Regions from separate parts of the Homo sapiens genome. Here region 2 is linked to region 1. A link means that fine-mapping ties the variant in region 1 to the expression of a gene that starts in the linked region. Tissue or cell type: T cells. Region 1 holds a variant in brackets; the other region holds the start of a gene. All regions are shown on one strand. Distances are from middle to middle. Region 1 overlaps MME (membrane metalloendopeptidase). Region 2 holds the start of MME (membrane metalloendopeptidase).

Region 1 (2,861 bases):
CCACCCTAGACCATGATAAATCTTTTCATTTTTTAAATAATGCAGTTTACAGGTGGATTAAAATATTTTAAATTAACTTTTCAAAATCGATCATATGTTTTAAATACTAAAAACCAAGATACAAATAAGGAATTTCAAGTTTCCTAGTTTTGTAAAATACCTTCATTCATTCTATTGAGAATGTTCATTCTATCAAAGACAGCTCACTATTATGTGTGATTTTAAGTCCCTGTCATGAATGAAAAACATCAGAGGGCTAAATTTAATTTGGCTTTATCTTTTTCATTACTTGTAGGTTTACACCAGATCATTTTGTAGTTTGGTTTTGATTATTTTTTTTCTTTTTACCTCTTTATAGATTCCAGTGCATTCATAGTAATCTCTAGAAGGGAGGCCAAGTCGAGGTTGGTCAATCTATAAAAAATATACATAAAAGAAAATAAATCATTCAGTGAATATAGAAAAGTTTGAAAAATACAAGCATGTCTATCTATGTATGTGAAAGATCCTACTCTTGCTGTTTATGGGGTGACCATCAGACACTCAATAAATACCTAGTTAGGAAATGCTTTCTACACTACTTGTAAGTGTTATACTAACGGGCAGTTAGATAATCTGGAGGACTGTGCTGCAGATATTTAAGGAAAACAAAAGAAAGTGAACAAAAGATTTACTAGGAGGGATTTTTAATGCAGAGCAGAAGGTGCAAGTGAACAAAAACATGTTAGATTCTAGGACGTGGAAATTTCTAAATTACATATTCACAGATTTCTCAGCTTCCTGAGATTCTAATGTGCTCCCCTGGGAACATTCTCATCTGCTTCCACCCTTAGTTGGGATCCCCTTTCATTGGTGGGAGTGGGTTAATATTCTTCAAGTTGATTTGGATGGATGGGGAGAAGGGGAGAAGTGGAAAACCTCTAAGGTAACTCCAGAATCTTTTAGCTAATGTAACTTGTGCCAGAAAATGTTTTTTAAGATTCTCTACCCTAAGGGAATGGAGGCGACTTCTCCTTGGTTCTCCTCAAAGCTGCTCTGCTCAGAAGAACCTCAGTAGACCCAGATAGCAGTTAAGGGTGTGAAAGAGGAAACTCAGTTTTGCGCTAACGTGTCTGGTCCATGTTTAATACCCAAGTGGGAGCTATCTGGGCATACTGCAGCTTTGCAAGATTGTTTCCTACTCACTGCATGGCAACATGAGTGTGGAGGCCAAACAGAGCATTTCTGGGTTAAAGAGAGAATCCTAGCAGCTGTGGAGAGCCTAGGCCAATAGAAAAGAAAACATAACCCAAAGAACTGGTATGGAAAGAGCCAGAAGATATCTCCACATGAAGGGCCCTGATCCTTCCCCACCCCCTGGTCCTCAAGGTGATCCTGCAAGGAGAAAGTTTCAGAAGAGAGAGAGCCCACTGCAGGAGATTTGGGTTCAATTCCTTTCATGATTTTAACAAAAACGACCATAAAGATTTATGCAATAGTGACACAGATATGATTAGGTGATTCAGTAGCCTGCAATTTTTTGTATAATTTCTTACACAGGAAACCAAAAAAAAAAAAAAACAAAAAAAAAAAGGAAGAAAGAAAAACTCTTTATATTTTTCAGTACATTCCAAACATAGTCATTAATCTAGTCTTAGGTGACACCTAAATCAAATTGTTTACATTTGTAAAAATACAATAAATCCATTTTAAAAGAAAGGCATTTTATTTACCTTTAGTTGAGA[A/G]AAAAGTACAGATACTCTTTAGTGAGGAAAAAAATGATGTTTAAAATCCCTTTTCTGTGTTCTTTTTGAAAGCAATTATTATTTTTTGGTTTCTAGACCTGCATTACTTCTATAAACGAAAGCATGCTCCTTTCAAGTACTATACAAAGAAATTAGGAACTTTTTCTGAATAGGAGGGGCCTGGAGCCCTTCTTATCATTTGTTTTGTGAAGGGAGAGGTATCTAAAACAGAGGTAGCAGAAGCAAGGGGTGAATGTCGAAAACAGCATTAAGAAAATACTTTCAAAATTGGAACTCCAGGTATTAGGGACAGAGCATGGATATACTACCTCCTTGCTTATTCAATTCAATTGAAAATAGCATTATTTCTAAATATCAATAACAACAATGTATGTGGAAGTTTTATTACAATTTAAAGGTAACTTTAGTTATTTGACACACAAACTTACATGAATTACATGATTCACAGAATTCTTATCATCAGTGCCAACAAACAAATTAATAAGGACTTTTTTCCCATATTTAGAATTCAGTTGTGCAATAGCTTTTTCAGCTGTCCAAGAAGCACCTAAAGCAATAAAAGATAAAATATATCTTTAGAAGCTTTAGTTCACTAATGATATTATAACATAGATTTTACATGGAAATTTCTTTTTTAGTAGGAAAATTGCCTTACCATATTTTTGCTCCCAGTTTTCTGTTGCTACTGGCCACCCATATATGTCTGGTAACAGTTTGAGTAGAGGTTCTCCACCTCTGCTATCAATAGCAGCTTTTGGAAACAACAAACATAAATTCAATTAGAAATCTAGGCATAGTTTGGCACCAATATATATATATATATACTCCTAATGAAATCAAATGAAGAGCACTTACATTCATTTATACAAGACCTGTACAATGCTTTTGCTTTCTGCACTGCTACTATATCTTCAGTTTTGGGTTCTTGAAGGACATCTGAAATAGGACATTTAATAAAATGCATCAACATAATTGCTCATTTGCACTATGCAAACATAATTGCTCATTTGCAGTAATTAACATTTGCAAAGTGGGTTCAGTTAAAAAAAAACCTTGCTTTTCTGGAGGTACATTCATTTCCTCCCCCCAGTTCCAAAACATTATAGGAAAAACCAA
Region 2 (2,911 bases), 38 kb after region 1:
CACTTCAACTGAAGATGTGTTAAATAAAAAGTTTAAACGGAAAAGTGGACACTGCCACAGACGAGAATAGAGAATTAGGAGGTCTAAGATAACAAGAACCTGCAAACTTCAGCTCGACAATATTACCAACAGAATAAATTACTATTTTAAGTGTAAGCTTAATTTCAAAGCAATGTAAAGCAGCAATTCTTATACCAGTTGAGCATAAGCATTACTATATCAGACAGTCAAAGCAGGAAACCTGGATAACTGATTTGTTAAAAAGGAAATCTCATTGACTTACAGACTTAGACTTAGCTAAGCAGTTTTCATCTTCACTGCACATTATAACATTAACTTATATCTGCAGGTTCCTGAAGCTGTGCTATGCAATTACAGTTTGTTCTATGGAAACTGAGGCACAGGAAGAAGGAGAAACAGTTTCCATATTTAAACTGTGTCTGCAGAAGCTGAGGACAGAGGTACTCAGGATAAATCATCTTCTTGTTTCCCAGACATTAATTAGGTGTTTCCCAGCCTGAAATACGGAGTTCTGGACACGAAGTGCCAACCATATTACTCCCCTGGTTAGTGCTGCTCTACAACCAAAGACACAGGGTTAAGTCCAAGAAATTACCAGACAATTTTTTAAAGTGCTAGAACCCACAAAAATGGCAGGGGATGAAGCTACACGCCTTCATACAGTCGATTTGCCGACAAGCACTTTCCAAATGCTGACGCTGCAAGTCAGGTACTAGTTTTCAGTTTAATAAAATTGCCATTTGAATCATATATGGGGGAGGAATCGACTTGATCGAGAAGCTAAAGAGGGATATTTGGTTGCAATTACCCTTATTTTGAAACCAGACAAATAGACTGAAACCAGTTAAGAGGTCTTAAACTTTCATCTACAAAAGGACACACCAGCCCCGCACCGACCAACCCTTGTGAGATTTAAGCATTAATTATATAATAGGAAATCAGGTTAAAAGCAAGATGAAGAGGTGGGATAATGAAAAGATCTTCCGGTTAAGAAAAGTAAAAATAGAAAAGTGAGTTACAAATGAGAAAATCCGACAGAAACCAAAATGAAAACAAACCTTGCTTTTTAAAAAGAAGAAAAAAAAATCAGTGTCTGTACAGCAGAATGGCAAATTCCCAGCCCCCAAATCAGCCCCGGTGCAATCTGGTAGCGCGGATCTCGGTAACAAAACATAACTCCCCAAGGCAGAGGCCGCAGGGAACTATGGAAATGAACCTGAAGAGCCAACCTGACGTGACTTCCAGAGCCCTCCTCCAGGTCACCCTCTGGGCCCCTCTCCCTCCCCTCACTCTTCAGGTCCCAGTAGCGGCTCCTTCCCAGGGCACGCCTCCTCCACGGCCGCAGGGTCCTGGGCGCTCGGATCGCGCTGGACCTTAGCTGCGGACCCTGCTCAGCGCACCTCCCGGCAGCCGCTCCCCTCGGCTGGCTCTGCCCTCCCCGTGCCCGTCCCACGGGCTCCCAGCGCCCTGGGCGCTCGCGCCCTTTGGACCTTTCTCCCTCAGCTCGCTCTCCTGGGACTCACCAGTGGGATTCGGGAGAAGTTGGAGGCTGCTGAGCCGACACATCCCGACCAATGAGCGCACGGGGCCGGGTGGCAGTGGCGGGCTGAGAGCCCAGCCAAGCGCCTCTCAGTCCGTGCATCCGCCCAAGGCGCGCGGGCTCCAGGCTGAGGCCGGACTTGGGGGAGGTTCCGGACCCGCCTCCGCCCGGGCCGTGGGGCGACGAGGCACCTGGGCATCCCTCCGACCCGCACCCACAGAGACTCACCGTGACCCCTCAGCAGATCCCGCGCCAGGAGTTGGGCGGCTGCTCCAGCCTGCTCTCGGTCAAGCTTCGCCACTTGCACATCTCCGCGCCCCGCGCGTCTCGGCGCTCTCACGGCCCACCCCCCCCACCCCCTACCCCGCCTCGCCGCTGCAGGACCAGAGAGAGGAGCAGTTCCCTGGGTGACCTGAAGGTTTCCGCTAGGTCTCCCAAATCCAGTCACTTCATGTGAGGGGGCCGGGGAGACGGGGGGCGGGCGGTGGCAATGAAAATGTCCCATCCTCCCCACCCCCCATCTCACCATTCCCAAAAGGGCTTTGCTAAACATTTTTAGAATTGCTTAGCTTCGGGGCTTTCAAGAAAACAATACACGGGCTCTTCGGGATTCTCTAGTCCTGAGGGGGCTCCATCTCTCCCCTGTGGACCGGAGACTATAATGCTTGCCTCTTCTCACGCTCTTCTTTCGCTCTCTTTCCCGCTCCCTTTCCTCCCTGAATCCAAGCTTCCTTCCTTCTTCATTTAAATGTCCTCTCTCCCTCCCTCCTTCGTTTTCTTTTTTCTTACTCTCCCTCCCCGTTTCCTTCTTTCCTTCCTTGCTCCTGCTTTCTCCACCCCGCTTCCCTCTTTCTTCCCTTTCTTTTCCTTGGTCGAAGTACTCTCATGTCAAGATCTGAACTGAAACTCTCCGCTCCCACCTCCTGACTTCAGGGAATCTTAAAACGTGTGTACATCGGAGGTTGAGGGTGGGGAGTGAGAAAGAGAAAAATAAACTAAAGTGTGTCTGCTCTACCTACTGAAATCAGCCGTAATGCGCCTGGACCCTCACAGTTTAATGCAAGCAAGCAGCGTACCCCTTTCACTCAAGACACAGCGATTCCTCCTCAAAGGGGTAAATACAAACAAGGAAATAAATACTTTAGGCACAAAGGCAGTTTCTTTGTAAAAGCTACCTTTAGCAGCTATAATTGCCAAGGAGCTCAGAGGAACTAAACTTCCTTTTTTTTTTGCTTCCAGTGTACAAGTACCTTTAATACTGATCCCTTTCCTCTTTTGAATCACAGGTAATTACACACACACACACACACACACACACACACACATACACACACATATTCACACTCCACT

Evidence for each region. PIP is the estimated chance that this variant, and not a neighbour inherited with it, causes the effect.
Region 2: MME starts here. The variant in region 1 is fine-mapped to the expression of MME in T cells (TOPMed, PIP above 0.99).

The regions. Positions count from the first base shown.
Region 1 is chr3:155,116,299-155,119,159 of GRCh38, reverse strand. It overlaps MME (membrane metalloendopeptidase), which reads right to left. Exons shown (of 23, transcript NM_007289.4): 5 at 2,601-2,681; 6 at 2,401-2,496; 7 at 2,174-2,292; 8 at 349-414. Among named protein-coding and RNA genes, the nearest start is that of MME, 37 kb to the right of the region's middle. The variant A/G (reference allele first, on the strand shown) is at 1,725.
Region 2 is chr3:155,078,635-155,081,545 of GRCh38, reverse strand. MME (membrane metalloendopeptidase) reads right to left here and starts at 1,227. Exons shown (of 23, transcript NM_007289.4): 1 at 1,080-1,227.